Linked DNA regions of Homo sapiens. The protein of the gene in region 2 purifies or fractionates together with the protein of the main gene of each other region. This does not show direct contact. Each region holds a gene or a part of one and is shown on either strand. Other genes may lie near its edges.

The links.
Region 1: the proteins of ANKRD49 (region 2) and ROCK1 purify together in Homo sapiens (affinity purification with mass spectrometry; one large-scale study listed by BioGRID and IntAct). This does not show direct contact.
Region 3: the proteins of ANKRD49 (region 2) and BCL7B purify together in Homo sapiens (affinity purification with mass spectrometry; one large-scale study listed by BioGRID and IntAct). This does not show direct contact.
Region 4: the proteins of ANKRD49 (region 2) and ROCK2 purify together in Homo sapiens (affinity purification with mass spectrometry; one large-scale study listed by BioGRID and IntAct). This does not show direct contact.
Region 5: the proteins of ANKRD49 (region 2) and SBNO1 purify together in Homo sapiens (affinity purification with mass spectrometry; one large-scale study listed by BioGRID and IntAct). This does not show direct contact.
Region 6: the proteins of ANKRD49 (region 2) and CMSS1 purify together in Homo sapiens (affinity purification with mass spectrometry; one large-scale study listed by BioGRID and IntAct). This does not show direct contact.
Region 7: the proteins of ANKRD49 (region 2) and PUS7 purify together in Homo sapiens (affinity purification with mass spectrometry; one large-scale study listed by BioGRID and IntAct). This does not show direct contact.

The regions. Positions count from the first base shown.
Region 1 is NC_000018.10:20,947,814-20,951,313, forward strand, and holds part of ROCK1 (rho-associated protein kinase 1), read right to left. Parts: 3' UTR 1-3,500. UniProt on the Homo sapiens protein: Protein kinase which is a key regulator of the actin cytoskeleton and cell polarity.
Region 2 is NC_000011.10:94,496,984-94,500,078, reverse strand, and holds the end of ANKRD49 (ankyrin repeat domain-containing protein 49), read right to left. Parts: intron 2,009-3,095; coding exon 1,547-2,008; 3' UTR 501-1,546; downstream 1-500. UniProt on the Homo sapiens protein: Induces HBG1 expression. May have a role in spermatogenesis where it promotes autophagy in response to serum starvation, via the NF-kappaB pathway.
Region 3 is NC_000007.14:73,547,691-73,551,190, reverse strand, and holds part of BCL7B (B-cell CLL/lymphoma 7 protein family member B), read left to right. Parts: intron 1-3,500. UniProt on the Homo sapiens protein: Positive regulator of apoptosis. Plays a role in the Wnt signaling pathway, negatively regulating the expression of Wnt signaling components CTNNB1 and HMGA1.
Region 4 is NC_000002.12:11,334,637-11,338,136, forward strand, and holds part of ROCK2 (rho-associated protein kinase 2), read right to left. Parts: intron 1-3,500. UniProt on the Homo sapiens protein: Protein kinase which is a key regulator of actin cytoskeleton and cell polarity.
Region 5 is NC_000012.12:123,323,348-123,326,847, reverse strand, and holds part of SBNO1 (protein strawberry notch homolog 1), read left to right. Parts: intron 1-513; coding exon 514-696; intron 697-1,248; coding exon 1,249-1,346; intron 1,347-3,016; coding exon 3,017-3,168; intron 3,169-3,500. UniProt on the Homo sapiens protein: Plays a crucial role in the regulation of neural stem cells (NSCs) proliferation. Enhances the phosphorylation of GSK3B through the PI3K-Akt signaling pathway, thereby upregulating the Wnt/beta-catenin signaling pathway and promoting the proliferation of NSCs.
Region 6 is NC_000003.12:100,177,862-100,180,046, reverse strand, and holds part of CMSS1 (protein CMSS1), read right to left. Parts: intron 1,743-2,185; coding exon 1,659-1,742; 3' UTR 1-1,658.
Region 7 is NC_000007.14:105,456,272-105,459,771, reverse strand, and holds the end of PUS7 (pseudouridylate synthase 7 homolog), read left to right. Parts: intron 1-512; coding exon 513-604; intron 605-1,845; coding exon 1,846-1,982; 3' UTR 1,983-3,269; downstream 3,270-3,500. UniProt on the Homo sapiens protein: Pseudouridylate synthase that catalyzes pseudouridylation of RNAs.

The DNA.
Region 1 (3,500 bases), on a different chromosome or scaffold from region 2:
ATATGGGAATGCAACCAGGCGCGGTGGCTCATGCCTGTAATCCCAGCACTTTGGGAGGCCAAGGTGGGTGTGGATCACCTGAGGTCAGGAGTTCAAGACCAGGCTGGCCAACATGGTGAAACCCTGTCTCTACTAAAAATACAAAAATTAGCTGGGCATGGTGGTGGGCACCTGTAATCCCAGCTACTCGGGAGTCTGAGGCAGGAGGATCACTTGAACCTGGGAGGCGGAGGTTGCAGTGAGCCGAGATCGCGCCACTGCACTCCAGCCTGGGCAACAAGAGCGAAACTTCGTTTCAAAACAAAAATAAAAAATTATATGGAAATGCAAAAGGCCAAGAATAGCCAAGCCAATTGGGAGGGATTACAAAGTTGGACTTCTACTACAGATATAAAATCTTATTATAAAGTTACAGTAATTAAAAGTGTGATATTGGCAAGGACACAGAAATAACACCAATGGATTGTTCACCTGAATTACGATGCAGGAAAGAAGTATTTTCAATGAATACTGCAGTATCAACTGAATATCCATATGGGAGAAATACTGCTTGATCTCTACCTCACTCTGAATTCCAGATTGATTATAGAACTGTGAAAGTTAACTATGAATTACAAACTCAAGTAACTATGAGTTTGTCATTTAAGTTCTTTTACTTATTTTTTTTACTTTAAATGAAGGGTGAATGGGTTAATTTAAGCTGAAACCCCAAATGACAGGTCATGAGTGAACCTGTGAATAATGACAGTGGCTATGTTTTCTTTGTTGCCCAAAGCTGGAGTTCCTGATCTCAGAGAAGCTTACAGGTGTGGGTGCATGGGCTAACTCAATGCTGAACCTTCATTCCACACTCCTAGTGTGTCCTCCTGTAACAAATTAGAGAGAAAGCTAGAGGCTATATTTCTCAGACTTTCTTGCAGCTAGGGGTCTGGATGTGATTTAATTTTGGCCACGTAGATGCACCTAGAGAAGGCAGACGTGAGATGCAGGCTGTGCTAAATGCCAGCAAGCAGGGTCATGGAAGTGCCTTTTCTGAGGCAGTGTGCAGACATGAGGTTCTTAAGTGGCAAGAGGAATGGTACAAAACATCTAACTGGAGGTAGATTGTAGCAAGCCTGACAAGTGTTGCAGAGAACCAGCAGTGGTAGTGTGGATTCCTGATTATGGCACTATCTGGACCCTCTCAATATTGGTATACTTGGGAGTGAGTGGTTTCCTGAACTTAGAAGAGGAAGCAGCTCTCCTGGTTGACCCAGTTCTGTAATGTGGCATTGGGAGTGATTCCTCAAAGCTCTCTCAGTTCTCAACAATTCTAAGTTCAGATTAGTATGTCATTTGGAAAGTCTTCTCTTGCTTAAACTAATTAGAATTAACTCTGTTCTCTGCAACTGGACCTTAAAATATTAGGTAATGGTGATGAGTCTGAGAAGGTAGTAAGGACACCGTCAGGAACTGTGCTGAGATTTTATCCTGTTTGCATGCTGCCAGTCACAGTTTCATGGATCCTGACAAAAGAGATGAGACCCCTGGGTCAGAGTCAGATGACTTCATTCACAGCACAGCAAAAGCAGCATAAGTTTCACGTTCCATCAGTTCCCTTTGCCCTCCAAGCCCCATGTGGGCAATGCAGAGTGGCCCAGGTGGGTGCTGAGCACACAGTGGGTTTGCATCATAGGTGGGAGACGTTATCTTTATTATACTGGACAGTAAAAGAACCCGACATCCTCACAAGGGAGAACTCTATCTTCCAAGGCTGTTTACTACATAAATATCCTTGGAAAAGATAGTCAAAAGAAAGGTTGTCAGAGCCTCTGCTTCCCTGATGTGTAGAAATGCAAGAGACCCATGGAGAATTGTTTTCCAACACACTTTAGCCAGCTTTTCATGTGAACTATTCCCACTCTTGTTTTAGAGCCCAAGACCACGTTTTATCTTTTAAAAATACACTTTAATCTAACCATGGAATTTCACAAACATTTATATACAATCAGAGACTAATTTGAAGTATGTTTTCCATTCATTTCAGCCATGAGAAAACACATTGCAGTAAAAATTAAAGATACCCATCCATAAATTACTTTTATTTCTCATTAAATGAGCACAGAGTCATTAGTATATTAATAACAGATATGTTTATTATTACATATCCATCAGTGCGGCTTTCAATACCACTTGAAACATGCATATCATCCTAGAGACGATCGGTTTTCCAGTGCTTCTTATCTGATACACATTACTGCAAAGCCATTATAAATTACTGAGGAGGTATTTGGTTAAAAAAATAAACAATAAATCATACTGTCCATATGAATCAACTCTTGTTACTGGACAAGAGTTTAACAGTATTTATCTGGTAATTCCTATGTTAACTGGAAAACATCATGGATGTATTGCCATATTTCCTTTTTATGTTGGTGCAACCTTCTACATTTTTTGCAGTTTTATAAAGTCATTATTGTAGCAGGTAGTTTGATGCAAAGATTGTACTCAATTTATGAAAGTCCAACAAACCTCTAAATATTTTAAATTAAACCAATTATCAATGAAAAACTCACTGACACACATAATTTTTTGAAAATACATTTTTTGAAATTTCTATACTTACTCATGGCAGTAAAATAATTATCTCAAATTAAGGCACTAAAAGGACAATGCAACCCCCATTGAAAGTGTTCTAAGAATAATTTACATTTCAAACAGTGCATACATTTCTTATATGTTTGTTAACTTAATGTCTTTATCATTTAAAACCACAAAGAAATACATTATACAATTATAGAAATGATGTACCCCACAAAATGCTTTTAAACTTGGTTCTTTTGTACAGTTAGTTTCCTAATGTCTCTAGTAGTAAAATAACTCAATATGGCTTGGCAAAAATGCATAGATTAAATGTAACTTTTTTTTGTCCTCTCCCATTCCCCAAACTTGCTGAAACATATACAGTATTTTGTAAAGCATAATGAAAGATATTTAATTTCTCCATCAAGTCCAACATGGGCAATCAACAGTAAGGCTTTTAAATTCTACAGTGAGGGCACTGAAGTTCAAGTGATATCACTGCTTTCTTAAAATAGTTTTGTATAGTCTTGCAAGAGCACAAAAACTTAAGTCATTAAAAAAAAAACAAAACTTCAGTTTGTCTCATTTTGAGATATTTTCTTTACTCCTTCCATGAGCTGATCTTGATAGTGATGGCTGTTCCACTTGAAAGTGAAAGTCCCTTCCTCTTACTCATATGAGGAAAACTCTGTTCTATCACGACTGACAGGCATTTTCTTATAAATCCAAAAAGGCAGCACCTTTTAAAAAAAATATATCTACCTAAGCTTTCCCCCAACTGTACTTGCATTACATAGTAATAATTAATCTAATCTACCTGTAGGCAAACCCGCAATAAAAAAAACCCTCAGTGTGTTGTGCCAAAGCAAGGACAGAAAAACAGCAATCTTAACCCTGAAGCCTGTGATATTTGTGTCAAAGAAACAGCCTGTCTGCTC
Region 2 (3,095 bases):
TAACTTAGGCCAGATTAAACAGAAAGCAACCTCTGCCACAAAGCATCTCCCTAGGAAGAGATCACAACATAAACTAAAGCACTAACTCTCAAGATCCTGTTGTCACGATGATTCAGTTCATATATTATCTCTGACTTTTCTGAGATGATCTAATAAGTTCTAAGCAAAAATAAATATTTAATCTTTGATTAAATAACATTATTACTTAGTCTAGGGTGACTGGGTTACGTAGGATGGCTTGAAAGAGATAAGCCTTGGTGGACATCTTAAAAATTTAACTGAAGTAAAGAGCAACTGGTTTAGTTCCCTTCCCCTGGAGTGTTGTGGTGTTGAGAAGACAAAACTTTGGGAACAATCACAGGGGGGCTAGATAGACAATGCAAAATTGCTGCTGGAGAGACTGAGTGAGTAGATGTTAAATAACTAAGTGCGTGCTGGATGAATAATGTTCTGGATCCAAGAAAGACATACACAGGTAAAAAATGAATTCATGCCTTTTGTGTTGTTCAAAACTTGTACTTTATTTTTCTCAAATATTTTTACTTATGCTTTTTGTCATTATCCACAGTGTTTTTTTTTTAAAGCCTGAGCCACTTTGTGGTTTTAGCCTCAATATAATAATCATCCCCTTACTCTTAGACTAATTCCTTTTCCCCTGTCACTTTGCCTGTATACTCTGTAAAAATGAGGACCTTAGAAAATCAACATTTCCTGTGAACTTGAGAGACTATACAAGCAGTGCCCAAATCAGTAGGATTAGGCAGGTAAAACCAGTTGGATAGCAGATATATTATGATCTGTTGGACAAAGGTATAGTTGTGTGCATGTCTACAAGGTCATCGTGATTCGCCATTAGCTTAAGGATCATGTAGGTTGACCAGGGTGAGGTAGGACTATCCACAGGATTGTGTAAATTGTGGTAGGGGATGCAGTATACAATATTCATGAATTAAACACTTAGCTAACTGCTTTCCTGAAAATGGTCTGTGTTCTAAAAGACAAAGATCTAGGTTTTTTGCTGTTTTTTACTTTAACTTATGAAGATTCAAGTCACTAATATGTTACTTGCTCTGGTTTAAAATGAAAGCAACTGGCTATGGTAAGGTAGAGAAGACAGCTGAATTGTATCAGAATATTTAAGACTTTTAAATTAAGTTCTGAGTTACCTCACCTTATAAAAATATATGTCAATATACTAAATACCCAACAAAGATCCAGGATGTGGGATATTTAAAAATACATTTCTCTTGTATCAGCACCAAAAATACCAGTTTCTGTACAACCCGTGTCAAGTTTTTAAGTATACACACATTAAAATTATTTCTGATAAAAAAATCACAAACTCCACAGAAATAATTAAAGATATATGCAAATTACTTTCAAATACATTTTGACATCAAAGTCAGGCAATTCACTTGGAAGAATGTTATAATGAATGTCACTGAATTTTTGTAGTAAGATGTTTGACGTCAACTTTGATTATGGGAATACATCTCACACACAGGAGGCACTGGTATTTAGAAACTTAGGAAAATTACTAGAATTGTTAAGACTGAGGTGAAGAATTTGTACAGCCTTCCACAATTTCAAAGAGGTAGTGATAGATACTTGTCCTCCTGGCAATATCAAATGCAGTTTCTTCCAAGTTGTTTTTCAGCCCTGGTTTGACGTAACGGTTCATCAGGAGGAGTTCTAGGGTATCCTTGCTGTCTCTGTTCCCAGCAGCAAGATGCAAGGGGGTCAAGAGGCCTTTTGTTTGGGCATTGATATCTGCATCATGCTGCAGTAAGAAAGAAGCCACTCTGGTATTATTCCACTTACAAGCACTGTGCAGGGGCGTCCAGCCATCCACAGTCACTGCATGAACATCGGCCCCCTGTGCAATGAGCTCCTGAACAATATCTAAGTGTCCACTGTAGGCTGCTCGATGAAGAGGGGTATACTCATCTTCATCCCTAGTGTTCACGTGAGTGGCCTTTTCAGAAAGGAGTCTCCGCACTGTGGTAAGCTGAGAAGAAAAAAAAGAAATCTTTCAACTCAACTCAAACCAAAACAATAACTAAAACAAAATTGTCTTGTGGTGTTAGATTTAATTAAGTTGAATAAAAACTTACTTGTTAGTAGATGACTTTAAAATGAAAATAATTTAAGATCTCTTTTTGGGGAGGAGAGGACTACTGATTTAAGAATGAACAAGTTAGTGTTAACTACACTTTGTTGCTTCTAAGAATGAGATTCTCTGAATATCAAACCATACATTTACTCCTGGTCCAACTAAGGTTTATTGCATAAAAGCTTCAGTCCAATGAATAACATAGGCTTTCTGTTTAATATTTTATGTGTTATCTGTGAAGAAAACATAACTGCTTGATTTTTCTGTAGGATTATCACACCAATATACACACTGTATGAAACTTTTAAAAATAAAACTTTTAACAGAAGAATAAAGTATTAATAAGGAATTCTAGGGATTCAAGAGCTCAATTCCTTCTCAATACAACCTTAGAAACAACCTTTTAGGTTGTAATTTTCAGTTTGTTCTATGGGCCTCTGGTTAAATGTGGCATGCTCTTGGGTTAAAAAGCTATTTAAAATGCGAGACCCTTTTAGTTATTAGTTTACTAACACAGACATGGGGAAACTTAGTAAAATGAGGTGGAAGTGGCCAAGCAGAGGGAATAGGCTTTTGATGTTCATTCCACTTCGATGATCCTGGGCAAATTAATATTCCTGAATCTCAATTTCTTACTCTATAAAAGAGAAGAATATTACTTATAGGGATACATGATGATTAAATAAAATAATGTAATAAGGTACCTGGTATAGTTAGTTTTTAATAAATGTTAGTTTCCATCCTCTCTTTCCTAAATGATCCTAATGACTTTATATAAATGATTTTAAAATATAGATGATTGCTTGCTATCTTTATAGATAATTATCCTTAAACCCCCAAATAATACCTAGCATGACACTTTGCAGCTTAATATGTGCTTTCATGTACATTGTCTCATTTGGTCCTCACAATCAAGAGATAGGTATGATGGCCATAACAGTAAAGGCAGGTCTTCTGGCTTGAACCCAGTGCTTTTCCTACT
Region 3 (3,500 bases), on a different chromosome or scaffold from region 2:
ACCTAAAATATTTATCATCTGACCCTTTAAGAAAAAGTTTGCTGATACTTGCTCTTATGCGATTAGTCCCCCACTGTATTGTGTGTATCATATGTATATACATCTTTCTAATTCTGGTGTAGACCTTTGTGCTTCATCTTTGTTGGATGTATTTGGATACCTGTATATTCTTTAAAAATACATAGCATTGTTTCATATGTGTATTTTTGTGTTTAAACAAAACTTAAATATGTGGGCCGGGCGTGGTGGCTCACGCCTGTAATCCCAGCACTTTGGGAGGCCGAGACGGGCGGATCACGAGGTCAGGAGATCGAGACCATCCTGGCTAACATGGTGAAACCCCGTCTCTACTAAAAGTACAAAAAATTAGCCGGGCATGGTGGTGGGCGCCTGTAGTCCCAGCTACTCGGGAGGCTGAGGCAGGAGAATGGTGTGAACCCAGGAGGCGGAGCTTGCAGTGAGCCGAGATCGCACCACTGCACTCCAGCCTGGGCGACAGAGTGAGACTCCATCTCAAAAAAACCAAACAAACAAACAAAAAAAAAACAAAAAAAAAATATGTACAGTATTTTGCCAGAACCTCTTTGTATTCTCTGTGGTTCAACTTTGGTTTTTTAATTTGGGGTTTTTTGCTTTTTTGTTTTTTTGAGACGGACTCTCGCTCTGTCGCCAGGCTGGAGTGCAATGGTGCAATTTCAGCTCACTACAACCTCTGCCTCCCAGGTTCAAGCAATTCTCCTGCCTCAGCCTCCTGAGCAGCTGGGATTACAGGCGCCTGCCACCACGCCTGGCTAATTTTTCTATTTTAAGTAGAGACGGGTTTCACCATGTTGGCCAGGTTGGTCCCAAACTCCTGACCTCAAGTAATCCGCCTGCCTTGGCCTCCCAAAGTGCTGGGATGACAGGCATGAACCACCGTGCCTGGCCCAACCTTGTTTTGAGAACCCTCCATGTATCTGTAAATATAAATAGAATTATTACCTTTGACTCATGCATTGCATTTTCTTATTTGCAGTGAGTACCTTTATCTACATATTTTCTGGGTGATAAATACCCAGATTGTTTCCAACTTTATTTTTTCTAATTGTTTTTTAAATTTTCAAATATAAAACACATACAGAGAAGTATATAAAACATAAATGTACAGTGTATGAATAAATATAAAGCTAACACTCTTGTGAGAACCACTCTGCAAAACACAGCTTTGCCAAGACCCCAGCAGACCTCTCTGCAGCTCTTCCCATCCTCTTCCTCCTGTCCCTCTAAAGGTAATGACTCTCCTACTTTTGCTTTTCTTACCACTTGTCTAGTCATTCATAAACAGTTTTTCCTTTATTATTATTTTTGAGATTTTTTTTCCAGAGACAAAATCTCACTATGTCACCGAAGCTGGAGTGCAGTGTCATGATCTCAGCTCACTGGAGCCTTGACCTCCCAGGCTCAAGCAATCCTCCCACCTCAGCCTCCTGAGAAGCTGGGACCACAGGCATATGCCATCATGCCCAGCTAATTTTTTTTCTTTCTTTTTTTTGTTTGTTTTGGAGAGATGGGAGTTTGCTATGTCAACCTAGGCTGATAGGTCTCAAATTCCTGGGATCAAATGATCTTCCCACCTCGGCCTCCCAAAGTGGTGGGATTTTAGGCATGAGCCATCGTACCCACGCTTTTTCCTTTTTTAGAGATGGTGGGGGGTCTCATTGTTGCCCAGGCTGGATTTGAACTTTTGGGCTCAAGGGATCTTATCTCAGCCTCCCAAATAGCTGGGATTACAGGCATGTGCCACTGCACCAGCCTCTAACATTTTGAGTGTTATGGAAACAGCATGATAAAGTATCTATTTTCGTGTGTCTTGTTTCTTTTGCTCAGCATTATGTTTGTAAAATGCATCCATGTTGTCCTTGGAGTTACCCATTCCTTTCCATTGCTCTCTCTGCTGTATTTTGCTGCATATTCATCACATGGCTAAGTGTAGTTTATTTTTCTGGTTCTCCTGTAGATATTGAGGTTGTCCACAGTTAGGGCCAATAGGAACAATGCCCCTGTGAGCATTCTTGTTCAGAATCCACATCAACATGTACATGAGTTTTCCTAGGATATATTCTTGGAAGGGAAGTGGCTGGGTCTTAGGGTATGTATGTTTTGACCTATATTAGCTGATGCTAAACTATTTGCTGAAATGGTAGTTGTACCAATTTATATTCCCACCAGAAACAGGAGTTTTGTTTTTTGGAGTTTTTTTTGTTTGTTTGTTTGTTTTTTTGAGACGGAATTTCGCTTCTCTTGACTAGGCTGGAGTGCAGTGGCGCAATCTCGGCTCACTGCAGCCTCTGCCTCCTGGTTTCAAGCGATTCTCCTGCCTCAGCCTCCCAAGTAGCTGGGATTACAGGCATGCGCCACCACATCTGGCTAATTTTGTATTTTTAGTAGAGACTAGGGTTCTCCATGTTGGTCAGGCTGGTCTTCAACTCCCGATCTCAGGTGATCCGCCCGCCTCGGCTTGCCAAAGTGTTGGGATTACAGGCGTGAGCCACTGTGCCCGGCCTGCTCCTTTTTTTATTATTATTATTATTTTGTAAGACACGGTTTCAATCTGTCGCCCAGGCTGGAATGCAGTGATGTAATCTCGGTTTACTTCTACTTTTGTCTCCTGGGCTCCAGTGATCCTCCCACCTCAGCCTCCTGAGTAGCTGGGACTACAGTCACATGCCACCACATCCAGCTAATTTTTGTTGTTGTTGTTTCCTTATTTTGTTTTGTTTTTTCGAGACAGAGTCTCACTCTGTTGCTCAGTCTGGAGTACAGTGGTGCGATCTAAGCTCACTGCAACCTCTGCCTCCCGGGTTCAAGCAATTCTCCTGCCTCAGCCTCCAGAGTAGTTGGGATTACAGGCACACACCACCAGGCCCGGCTAATTTCTGTATTTTTAGTAGAGACAGGGTTTTACCATGTTGGCCAGGATGGTCTTGATCTCCTGAGCTCGTGTTCTGCCCACCTCCGCCTTCCGAAGTGCTGGGATTACAGGCGTGAGCCACTGCGCCCAGGCTCGCCTAAAATTTCATGCACCTACATTTTTTTTTTTGAGACAGGGTGTCACTCTGAGGCTGGAGTGCAGTGACGTAATCTTGGCTCACTGCAGCCTCCGCCTCCTGGGTGCAAGCAGTTCTGGTGCCTAGCCTCCCAGTAGCTGAAACTACAGGTGCATGCTGCCACACCCAGCCTAATTTTTGTATTTTTTGGTAGAGACGGGGTTTCATGATGTTGGCCAGGCTGGTGTTGAACTCCTGACCTCAAGTGATTTGCCCATCTAGGCCTCCCAAAGTGCTGGGGTAACAGGTGTGAACCACTGTGCTCAGCCTCATGCACCGACTTCTTACTGTTTTCTCCTACATTTGTTTTTCTTTTTGCTAGAATACATCCTTCAAGAGTTTTGTCAAAGAGAGCTTCTGTGGGGAAAACTTTCTGAAAATATCTTTGTTTCACTTTCATGTTGAAAATTGATG
Region 4 (3,500 bases), on a different chromosome or scaffold from region 2:
AAGAAGCATATATGAAGGCAATGCTTAGCATATTAAGCATTTGTCAACACAATCATGCAGGTAATTAAGACAATACCAGCCCTGCTCTGGCGCGTTTCTATCTAAATAAAGTACTGCTAGAGAACACTTCGCTAATTCATTTCCATGGCATAGAAACCTCAATAATTAAACATTAGAAATTGTTCCAAGTCTATAATCCCTTGAAAATAAAATGTCTATCACTTGCTTTATAACTAAAGAAATCTGAGGTGAAACTCTTTTAGAGAATAAAGGAATTCAGACATTGAATATAAGTGGTCAATCACCTATGACAAAAAAAAATTATAAAGCACTTTAGATATCTGAACAAACAGCCCATACCTTACCAAAATGAAGTACCAAACCATAAAATCATTCCTGGACTTAGAAACATTCCCCAAAATATTATTGACAATGAACTAAAAATGAATCCAAATAGTTCCCTTTGACTGATACACACACACACACACACACACACACACACACACACACACAGACACACACACGGAAGGGGAAGGCGGGGAATGAGAGAAATGCTAAGTATTGTGACCCAAATGCTTTTTGAAAAGATATGTGAGGGTCATTTAGAAAACCTAACTGCAGAATTTACAAGAATATCTATATAATTTAATAATACTTTAAAGGGGGGCAGGAGTACAGATGAGAGGAAAGAAAAATGACTCCAATTAAGGATAAAGTGAGTATAGTTTTAGTTGAGCCCCAAATGCACCATGATTTCACATCAATTTATTAAACAGTAAGCTCCATATGCTAGTCCACCAAGGGAAAATGTTCTTTTATTATTTTTAAAAGCTGTAAGTTGCACTGAGTCATCCACATTCTCTCCACCAGTAATCCTTATCACTAACAAATTAGAGTTTTAAGTATAGTTGTATAGTATTTTCATGAAGAAATTCAAGAGGCCCAAATAGAGACCTAACCTATAATCATTAGACCTTAATCATTAAACCTTTTTTCTCACCCCAATCACCACTCTCCAAATAGAAAGTATAATAAAGAGATGTAAACAGAAACTCCCAATTAATATTTTGGGAAATTTAATACCTAGACAAATCTCAATCTCCTGATATAATCTTTGAACTCCTACTTCATACTTTCCATCAGAATTCCAAATGAAATGAAAATATCAATAAAAATAAAGCCATGTGAGAACAAAAAGTCAGGTATATGATGATATAATCCTGGTAACAGAGAATTTCCTAAACATGACCACTAAGCCAGAAATCACTTTACAGTGAAACGATTGATAATTGTGACTATATAAAACTCATACTATTCATTAAATATTTAAAAAGATAAAGCACATGAATACTGTAATTTTTAAATACATATAAGTTAAGATATATAAACCAAAATGTTAATTTAAACAGTGATTATCTCTAAGGAAGGAGATTGTAGATAAGTGCTATTAGCATTTATACCCTTCTATGCTCCCTAAATTTTCTACAACGAGAGCATATTATTTTTATAATTTAAAAAATGACAAATCTTTCTTCACTTTAAAAAATAAAATCTATGTTTCCCTCTCAGCCATAGTTGGTTGTCACTTCCCTCAGGTACAGATAAAACTAAAAAGAAATGACTTTTTTTCCAGAGACAGGGTCTCATTCTATCACCCAGGCTAAAGTGCAGCAGCACCATCACAGCTCACTCAGTCTCAAACTCCTGGACTCAAGCCATCCTCCTGCCTCAGCCTCCTGGGCAGCTAGGATCACAAGTTTGTGCCACCATGCCTGGCTAATTTTTTTATTTCTGTAGAGGCGACAAATCTCACCATGTTGCCCAGGCTGGTCTCAAACTTCTAGCCTCAAGCAATCCTCCCAACTCAGCCTCCCAAAGCACTGGTATTACAGGCATGAACCACTGTGCCCAGCCAAGAAATGACTTTTGAATTGAGCATGGGTTAAACAATAGAACCAGGACTGATGATCCGGTGTAGCTACTAAGGTGGTAGAAAAGCAAATTTAAAAGTCCAACTGTCAGTAAACTGACTTTTAACAAAGGTGCCAAAGCAATCCAATGAGAAAACTTAATTTTTTTAAAATGGTGCAGGATAGTCTGGATAACTGGATAATTATGTGGAGAAAAAAAATTAACTTCAACCCCTAACTCACACCACACATTAAATTTAGCTTAAAATGTATCCTAGACCTAAATGTAAAAGTCAACCATAAAGCTTTTGGAAAAAAGCAAAGGAGAATATCTTCACGACATGAGGATGGCGACAATTACTTGGGCAGAAAAGCAACAACCATTAAAAATTTTTATTAAAAAAAGAGATATGGGGCCAGGCATGGCGGCTTGTGCCTGTAATCCCAGCACTTTGGGAGGCCAAGGCGGGTGGATCACTTGAGGTCAGGAGTTGGAGACCAGCCTGGCCAACATGGTGAAACCCTGTCTCTACTATAAAAATACAATAATTAGCCGGGTGTGGTGGTGCATGCCTGTAATCCTAACTAATCAGGAGGCTGAGGAGGGAGAATCACTTAAACCCATGAGGTGGAGGTTACAGTGAACCGAGATTGTGCCACTGCACTCCAGCCTGGGCAACTCAGCAAGACTCTACCTCAGAAAAAAAAAAAAAGAGACAGAGAGAGAGATACACCATAAGCTAGGAAAAAACATTCACAAAACATTTATTTGACAAAGAGTGTTCTCTTTATATACAAAAGAACTTCTAAGATTCAATAATAAATACAAATAAATGACCCAATGTTTTTTAATGGGCAAAAATGGAGGTATGTTGCTTCAAACAGATGCTTCACAAAGGAAAATATATAAATGGCCCGTAAGTGCAAGAAAAAGTACATCATTCATCATGAGGGAAATGCAAATCATGCAAATCGAAATCACATTTTAAAGAGCAGTGTCGGGGAAGATGTGGAGCAACTGGAACTCTCATATACTGTTGGTGGGAGTATAAAATGGTATAACTACTTCATAAAAAGATCTGGCAGTTTCTTTTTTTTTTTTTGAGACAGAGTCTCACTCTTGTTGCCCAGGCTGGAGTGCAATGACCCAGTCTCAGCTCACTGCAACCTCCCACCTCCTGGGTTCAGGTGATTCTCTTGCCTCAGCCTCCCAAGCAGCTGGGATTACAGGTGCGTGCCACCACGCCTGGCTAATTTTTTTTTTCTTTTAATTTTTAGTAGAGATGGGGTTTCACCATGTTGATCAGGCTGGTCTCGAACTCCTGACCTCAAATGATCCACCCACCTCAGCCTCCCAAAGTGCTGAGATTACAGGCATGAGCCACCATGCCTGGCCATCAGTTTCTTAAAAAGTAAACACATATCTGCCCTATGAGTTAGCAATTCCACTACAAGGTATTTAATTTACCCAAAAGAAATGAAAACTTTCATAACAACTGTATTAAGAGCCAAAGTAGGCTGGGTGCAGTGGCTCAGGCCTCTAATCCAACGTTTTCAGGGGCTGAGGCTGGAGGATCACTTGAGGCCAGG
Region 5 (3,500 bases), on a different chromosome or scaffold from region 2:
TCAAGGAGTCCTCCAGACTCTGCCTCCTGAGTATCAGGGACTGCAGGCGCATGTCAATGTGCCTGGCTGATTTTTGTATTTTTTGGTAGAGATGAGGTTTTACAGTGTTGCCCAGCCTGATCTGGAACTCCTGGGCTCAAGCAATCCACCTGCCTCAGCCTCCCAAAGTGCTGGGATTACAGGCATCAGCCACTGCGCCTGGCCTAACCAATGTTCTTATATTTCAGATTGTCCATGTTTTCATTTTGTTAAGGTAATTCATAAGTTATAGCCATTTATTTCAGTTGCATAGTTCTTAAAATCACATTATTTTCTAAAATGACTGCATTAGGTAATAAGAAACTTGAGACAACTGTGTGAGTATCCTGAGAAATAGATTCCCAAGTTACTAAAGATGATTTATTAAATTAATATTAAATGGTCTTGCACTTAACATTGTTTTGATTTAATTGGTATTTTTAAATAACTAGACTCAAAGATGAAGTGTCTGAAATGTTGATTATGTATCTTCAGTGGGTCATCGCCAGAGAGCGGTTTCAGCAAGCTGCAGATCTGATTGATGCTGAGCAACGAATGAAGAAGTCCATGTGGGGTCAGTTCTGGTCTGCTCACCAGAGGTTCTTCAAATACTTATGCATAGCATCCAAAGTTAAAAGGGTTGTGCAACTAGCTCGAGAGGAAATCAAGAATGGAAAAGTAAGTAGAAGAACTCATTAAGAGATTGTTTGGGGGTTATGTTGTTTAGTCTTTGTGGGTGCTGAGGTTTTCTGCTTGTAAAATCTGGTTTTCCTAAAGGATAGTAAAACTTCTAAAAAATACATTTCTTAAAATTATAAAAGCAATGCCTGCTTAGAGAATTTAGAGAGTTCAGAAAAGTATAACAAAGTAAACATCACTATAATTGGTCATCCATAGCTGGTAGCACTGGTAACATATGGATGTGTATTGCGTTAAGGTTTTTTCTTTTCGGTGAATATTTATCTACTTAAAGCATAAGATACTATAAACTGTACAAGGGCAGGGGCTTCACTCATGCTTACTACTGTCTGTAATCCTATCTCCTGCCTAAATTTTTGACAAATAACCTGTCTCAAATATGTAGAAGAAATAAGTAAAACAAATTTGTGTTTTATAATAATGAGGACATTCTTGTTTGAAATCTTTGTTTAGCTAAATGTTTAAAATATGTCTTGGTAAGAAGCCACAAACATTATTATTCATAATTAACATGTTTTCTTTTTTCTCCAGTGTGTTGTAATTGGTCTGCAGTCTACAGGAGAAGCTAGAACATTAGAAGCTTTGGAAGAGGGCGGGGGAGAATTGAATGATTTTGTTTCAACTGCCAAGTAATGTTTTTGTTCTTTTAATGTTTTTGTTTCTTTTTGAGTTCTTCCTTACCTTAGTTCCAATGTGGGCATTTCCTGGAGACAAAACTTTTGTTTCACCTGCATCATCTTTAAGTTTTCTTGATCTGAGTTTTCTGCTTTTCTGTAACAGTGTATCTATTGGAAAACAATAACAGAAATCTCATAATCCTAAAATGTTAAGCATTTTGCTAATATTACACAGAGTATGTGAACTAACAGAAGGGCTAGACTTTGTTTATCTTGTACATCTTGGAAATCTGTGACAGCTTGGCTTAGATTCAGTTTTAGTGTACTGTATTTGAAATTACCGTTATCCACAGGAACAGTAACTATAGTTTGTCCTAATATAACGAAGTCTACTTTATAAGTTGGCTGAGCATGGTGGCTCACAGCTGTAATCTCAGCACTTTGGGAGGCCAACATGGGCACATCACTTGAGGTCAGTAGTTTGAGACCAGCCTGGCCAAAATGGTGAAACCCCATCTCAACTAAAAATAAAAAAAATTAGTTGGGCATGGTGGCACACGTCCTGTAGTCCCACCTACCTGGGAGGCTGAGGCAGGAGAATCCATTGAACCCGTGAGGTGGAGGTTGCAGTGAGCCAAGATCGCACCACTCCACTCCACTCCCCTCTGGGCGGCAGAGTGAGACCCTGTCTCAAAAAAAAATAAAATAAAATAAAGTCTACTTTAAAAGTTGAAAATAAGCATGAGATCTTCAGAAATAGATTTTAAAATGTTTTAGGCATTGTTTTTAGTTTGCCTAACCTCCACATTCAAACTCTGGTAGTAAACTGAGCAAAATAAACTTGCTGCTCTACTATTTTGTGCCTCGGGATGCATTCAGATGCTCCTTTCAAAAGCAATACATGGGGCTCACGCCTGTAATCCAGGCACTTTGGGAGGCTGAGTCTGGTGGATCACGAGAGCTCAGGAGTTTGAGACCAGCCTGGCCAACACGGTGAAACCTCGTCTCTACTAAAAATACAAAAACTAGCCAGGCGTGGTGGCGGGCACCTGTAATCCCAGCTACTGGAGAGGCTGAGGCAGGAGAATTGCTTGAACCCAGGCGGCGGAGGTTGCAGTGAGCTGAGATGGCACCATTGCACTCCAGCCTGGGTGACAGAGAGACTCGGTCTCAAAAAAAAAAAAAAAAAGAAAAAAGCAAGACATACACCTGCTAATCTATATTTTTCTGTACATAATTGCCTAGAACTACCGTGTCCAGAATGGCAGCCGCTTGTCACATGTGGCTATTGAGCAGTTGAAATGACTGGTCCATATTGAGATGTTATTATATGTGTACTGAGCCAGGTTTCAAAGACTCCTTAAGAGAAAATAACATAAAACATATGTGTTGACATGGTATATTGAGTTAAAATGTATTATTAAAATTAGTTCCACCAGTTTTATTTATTTTTTACTTTTTTAATTTAAGCTACCAGAAAATACAATAATTGTGTATGTGGTTTGGCTTGCATTCTTATTATTTAGTTGGACAGCTTTGGGCTAGAAAATTAAAATTTATTTGAGCTCGTTTATCAGTATTTTGTAAAACTGAACAAAGTATATTTCAATATATTTAATAATACTTTACATATAATTATTTTGTCAACTGAAGCAGTAATTGTCACTGTTTCTCTCCTACAGAGGTGTGTTGCAGTCACTCATTGAAAAACATTTTCCTGCTCCAGACAGGAAAAAACTTTATAGTTTACTAGGAATCGATTTGACAGCTCCAAGTAACAACAGTTCGCCAAGAGATAGTCCTTGTAAAGAAAATAAAATAAAGAAGCGGAAAGGTGAGCACTTTAAAAAAGAAAAAATAGGCCAGGTGCGGTGGCTCACACCTGTAATCCCAGCACTTTGGGAGGCTGAGGTGGGCAGATCACGAGGTCAGGAGATCGAGACCATCCTGGCTAACACGGTGAAACCCCATCTCTACTGAAAATACAAAAAATTAGCCGGGCATCGTGGTGGGCACCTATAGTCCCAGCTACTCGGGAGGCTGAGGCAGGAGAATGTCGTGAACCCAGGAGGCAGAGCTTGCAGTGAGCCGAGATAGCGCTGCTGCACTCCAGCCTGGATGACAGAGCGAGACTCTGTCTCAAAAAAGAAAAAGAAAAAAGAAAAT
Region 6 (2,185 bases), on a different chromosome or scaffold from region 2:
CCAAGGTACAGCTGAACCATTGCTTCAGAGGGTGCAAGCCCCAAGCCTTGGCAGCTTCCACGTGCTGTTGGGCTTATGGGTGTGCAGAAGGCAAGAGCTGAGGTTTGGGAGCCTCTGCCTCAATTTCAGAGGATGTATGGAAACGCCTGGATGTCCAGGCAGAAGTCTGCTACAGGGGTGAAGCCCTCATGGAGAGCCTCTACTAGGGCAGTGCAGAGGGGAAATGTGGGGTTGGAGACCCTACACAGAGTCCCCACTGGGGCACTGCCTAGTGGAGCTGTGAGAAGAGAGCCATCATCCTCCAGACCCCAGAATGGTAGATCCACTGACAGCTTACACTGTGTACCTGGATATGCTGTAGGCACTCAACACCAGCCTGTGAAAGCAACCATGGGGACTGTACCCTGCAGAGCCACAGGGGCAGAGCTGCCTAAGGCCTTGGGAGCCCACTCCTTGCATCAGAGTGGCCTGGATGTGAGACATGGAGTCAAAGATTATTTTGGAGCTTTAAGATTCAAAGAGTGCCCTGCTGGGTTTCAAACTGGCATGAGGCCTTTAGCTCCTTTGGGCCAGTTTCTCCCACTTGGAATGGGAGCATTTACCCAATGCCTGTACCTCCATTGTATCTTGGAAATGACTAACTTGTTTTTTATTTTACAGGCTCATAGGTGGAAGGAAGTTGCCTTGTCTCAGATCAGACTTTGGAGTTGGACTTTTCAGTTAATGCTGGAATGAGTTAAGACTTTGGGGGACTGTTGAGAAGGCATGATTGTGTTTTGAAATGTGAGAAGAACATGAAATTTGGAAGAGGCCGGGGTGGAATTGACATGGTTTGGCTCTGTGTCTCCACCCGAATCTTATGTTGAATTATAATTCCCAATGTTGGGGGAGGGACCTGGTGGAAGGTGACTGGATCATAGGGACAGATTTTCCCCTTGCTGTTCTGCTGTTCTCATGATAGGGAGTGAGTTCTCACAAGATCTAGTCGTTTAAAAGTGTGTGGCATTTCTCCCTTCACTCTCTTGCTCTCTTGTCGCCATGTGAAGATGTGCTTGCTTCCCCTTCACCTTCTGCCAAGTTTCCTGAGGCCTCTCAGCCATGCCTCCTGTACAGCCTGTGAAACTGTGAGTCAATTAAACCTCTTTTCTTTATAATCTACCCAGTCTCGGGTAGTTCTTTATAGCAATGTGAGAATGGATTAATATACCTGCCACCCTTTTTGCTGGGACCATGCCTCAGAGTTTACAAATCTGCTCCCCATGTACTATCTCCTGGAATCCTCAACAATGCTGTGAGACATTCCCACTTTGAGTTGATAAGATGGGGCTCAGAGAGGCAAGACCTTACGCTTGCCTAAGGTCACCCAGCTGCTCTTTCCTTTCTCCTGCACAGTTACATCAGAAGCCAGTTGGTGACAGAAAAACACGGTCCGCTCAACAAGGATCATACACAAGCCGGTGATACTTTATTATATAAGAGAGTTGTCAAAAGGACAGTTTCATTTCTGTTTCAGAATCCCCACATTCCAGTGATCCATCTGTTGACACAATTAACATAAACTATTTGCTGATATTTACTGAGTGCTTGCAATGTATCAGAGTCATTAAATAAGATGCAACTTCTACTGTGAAAACTGGAATCTTCATTAGGACACAGACTTAGAAAAGGCCCAGTTTCAAGGATTCTGACTTGCACAGACTGAGCACTCCCATTTCCAGAAGTTCGAATACCTCCTTTCTTATCTAAATGAGAGAAAAGGGGGGAAAAAAAGATTAAGATCAAGCCAAAATGGTCTTGGTGAATACATTCAACCATCAGGACTCCCTGATATTTACCCAGCTGTTATGGCCAGAATCAGAGAGTGCAAAAGTCCTAACACACATTTGATTCAGAGTTGAAATTTTTAAAATTATTATTATTATTATTTTGAGACAGAGTCCCATTCTGTTGCCCATGCTGGAGTGCAGTGGCGTGATCTCGGCTAACTGCTATCTCTGCTTCCCAGGTTCAAGTGATTCTCATGCTTCAGCCTTCTGAGTAGCTAGGATTAGAGGTGTGTGCCATGATACCTGGCTAATTTTTGTATTTTTAGTAGAGACAGGGTTTTGCCATGTTGGCCAGTCTGGTCTTGAACTCTTGGCCTCAAGTGATCCACCTGCCTTGGCCTCTCAAAGTGCTGGGATTA
Region 7 (3,500 bases), on a different chromosome or scaffold from region 2:
TAACTAATAGAATATAATTGGATTGAGCCTATTATATTCAGGCACAGTGGCTCACGTTATAATCCCAGCAGTTGGGGAGACTGTGGCGGGTGGATCACCTGAGGTCAGGAGTTTGAGACCTCCCTGGCCAACATAGTGAAACCCCATCTCTACTAAAAATACAAAAATTAGCCAGGCATGGTGGCAGACACCTATAGTCCCAGCTACTTGTGAGACTGAGGCAGGAGAATTGATTGAACCCAGGAGGCAGAGGTTGCAGTGAGCCAAGATCACACCACTGCACTCCAGCCTAGGTGACAGAGTTGAGACTCCATCTCAAAAAAAAAAAAAAATTATATATATAAGCAAAACTTAGGTATAAAATCTGGCCCTGCTATATTATTCAAGATTCCTAACTATAATTATTTACAGTAAACTTACTTGTTTTTCTTGCTAAATAAATGATGATGAGTGGCTTAGTACCTTTTATGAAAGTTCACATTCACACTTATCTTTATTCATATGTTTTGAAGGGAAGTCGTTGCATATGATGATCCCAAAATTCCACTTTTCAACACAGATGTGGACAACCTAGAAGGGAAGACACCACCAGTTTTTGCTTCTGGTAAGTTTACTCAGTCATCAGCTCTGTGTTGACTTTGAAATGTTTTGTTAAACAAAAACATAATTTTTTTTTGAAAACTGCTCTTACAAGCACTACCACCACCCATGATTTCATTGTTGTGTTTTATGACCTTACTTTCACAATTATGGCTGAAAGTTAGTGATTAAAACCAGTAAATCCTCCTGAAAATAAGTGCATGTTATAGATGGTTGTGATATTAGGTGATGGAGTATTTCTCCCCATCCCCCACAGAGACTTACCAAAGGTGAGTGAAAATTCAGGAAGAGTCTAAAAAATTAAATTGGTTGGGCAGGTGCGGTGGCTCACGCTTGTAATCCCAGCACTTTGGGAGGCCGAGGCGGGCGGATCACGAGGTCAGGAGATCGAGACCACGGTGAAACCCCGTCTCTACTAAAAATACAAAAAATTAGCCGGGTGTGGTGGCGGGTTCCTGTAGTCCCAGCTACTTGGAGAGGCTGAGGCAGGAGAATGGTGTGAACACAGAAGGCGGAGCTTGTAGTGAGCCAAGATCACGCCACTGCACTCCAGCCTGGGTGACAAAACGAGACTCCATCTCAAAAAAAAAAAAAAAAAAATTGGTGGCTGGGCGTGGTGGCTCACACCTGTAATCCCAGCAGTTTGGGAGACCGAGACAAGTGGATCACTTGAGGTCAGGAGTTCCAGACCAGCCTGGCCAACATGACAAAACCCCGTCTCTACTGAAAATACAAAAAAAAAAATTAGGCGGGCGTGGTGGTGGGCACCTGTAATCCCAGCTACTCAGGAGGCTGAGGCAGGAGAATCGCTTCAACCCGGGAGGTGGAGGCTGCAGTGAGCTGAGATTACACCACTGCACTCCAGTCTGGGCAACATAACAAGACTCTGTCTCAAAAAAAAATTAATTAATTAATTAAATTGGCATTCTCATCATCAAATTCTTGTTCTGTTTTTTCCCAGGCCGTAATTTATTATTATTTCTTTAACTTTACATGCGTTTCTCTTTTGTGTTCTTCTGTCATCTGCCTTTTTGTGAAAGTTCCTGGGCAGAATTTCTGTAACCATTCAGCAGGTTCACACTCACAGATCTCTTACTTCCATGGTCTCATTCTCCAAGGCCCCCTAGGAAGTGGAGTCTAAGGAAAGCAGCACAGTTCTTTGTATTTGCTTAGAGATTATGTGACTCTCGCTGGTCTGTCTGCAGCTGCCTTCATTTTCTGACTGTTTTCTTTCTTGCCTTGCAGAAGGCAAATACAGGGCTCTGAAAATGGATTTTTCTCTACCCCCTTCTACTTACGCCACCATGGCCATTCGAGAAGTGCTAAAAATGGATACCAGTATCAAGAACCAGACGCAGCTGAATACAACCTGGCTTCGCTGAGCAGTACCTTGTCCACAGATTAGAAAACGTACACAAGTGTTTGCTTCCTGGCTCCCTGTGCATTTTTGTCTTAGTTCAGACTCATATATGGATTTCAAATCTTTGTAATAAAAATTATTTGTATTTTTAAGTTTTTATTAGCTTAAAGAAATAATTTGCAATATTTGTACATGTACACAAATCCTGAGGTTCTTAATTTTAGCTCAGAATATAAATTAGTCAAAATACACTTCAGGTGCTTAAATCAGAGTAAAATGTCAGCTTTACAATAATAAAAAAAGGACTTTGGTTTAAAGTAGCAGGTTTAGGTTTTGCTACATTCTCAAAAGACAGCAGGAGTATTTGACACATCTGTGATGGAGTATACAACAATGCATTTTAAGAGCAAATGCAACAAAACAAATCTGGACTATGGATAAATAATTTGAGAGCTGCCACCCACAAATATAAATACAGTACTCATGCTGACTGAAATAATAAGACATCTACAAATTTATAAACAAAAAGTGATTGTCATTATCCTGCTTATGTACTAGATTCAGGCAAGCATTATAGACTTTTTGGTTGCGGTGGCTTTTGCATTTATATTATCAATGCCTTGCAGGAACGTTGCATTGATAGGCCCATTTTATTTTTTTATTTTTTTTTTCGAGACAGGATCTCACTCTGTAGCACAGGCTGGATTGCAGTGCAATCCTGCAATTCTCAATCTTGCACTGCAGCCTCGACCTCCCAGGCTCCAGTGACTCTCCCACCTCAGCCTCCTAAGTAGCTGGGAGTACAGGCGCGCACCACCACGCCTAGCTGATTTTTGTATTTTTTTGTAGAGACGGGGGTTTGGCCATGTTGCCGAGGCTAACTCCTGGGATTACAGGCATGAGCTGTGCTGGCCGGGTTTTTTTTTCTTGATGTAAACGTGTACAGCTGTTTTATTAGTTAAGGTCTAATTTTTACTCTAGGTGCCTTTTATGTTCAGAACTCTTTCCACTGGACTGGTATTTGCTCAAAAATAAATAATGGTAGAGAAGAAAACTATAAAAATGGACAAGGCTTTCTTCTATCAGTAGCGTTTACCCTTTGTCACCAGTGGCTTTGGTATTTCCATGTCTGGCATTGCATAAACTTCTCTGGTGTGAAAGGATAAATATGCCTTTCTAAAGTTGTATATCAAAATTGTATCAATTTTTATTTTCTATGATTTCTAGAAACAAATGTAATAAATATTTTTAAAATCTCCTTTCTACTGGTTATGTAAATAAATCAAATAAATATATCAAAATGAGTGCAGATAAGAATCTTGACCTTGACTAAAGGTAAGGAACTAAATGAATGTGGGATCCTCATCAGAAATGGTGGTGACACCAAAATGTGTTGTGATCAGCTGTGAAGTATGAGGATAATCTGAGTCAAATGCTACGAATAATTGACTGTGTTGGACTGGACTCCAGGTTATTGGAATCACTCACTCACCTTCCAATGTGCTTTATGGAGTAGAAAAGAAAGGAATGGAAAAGAGCT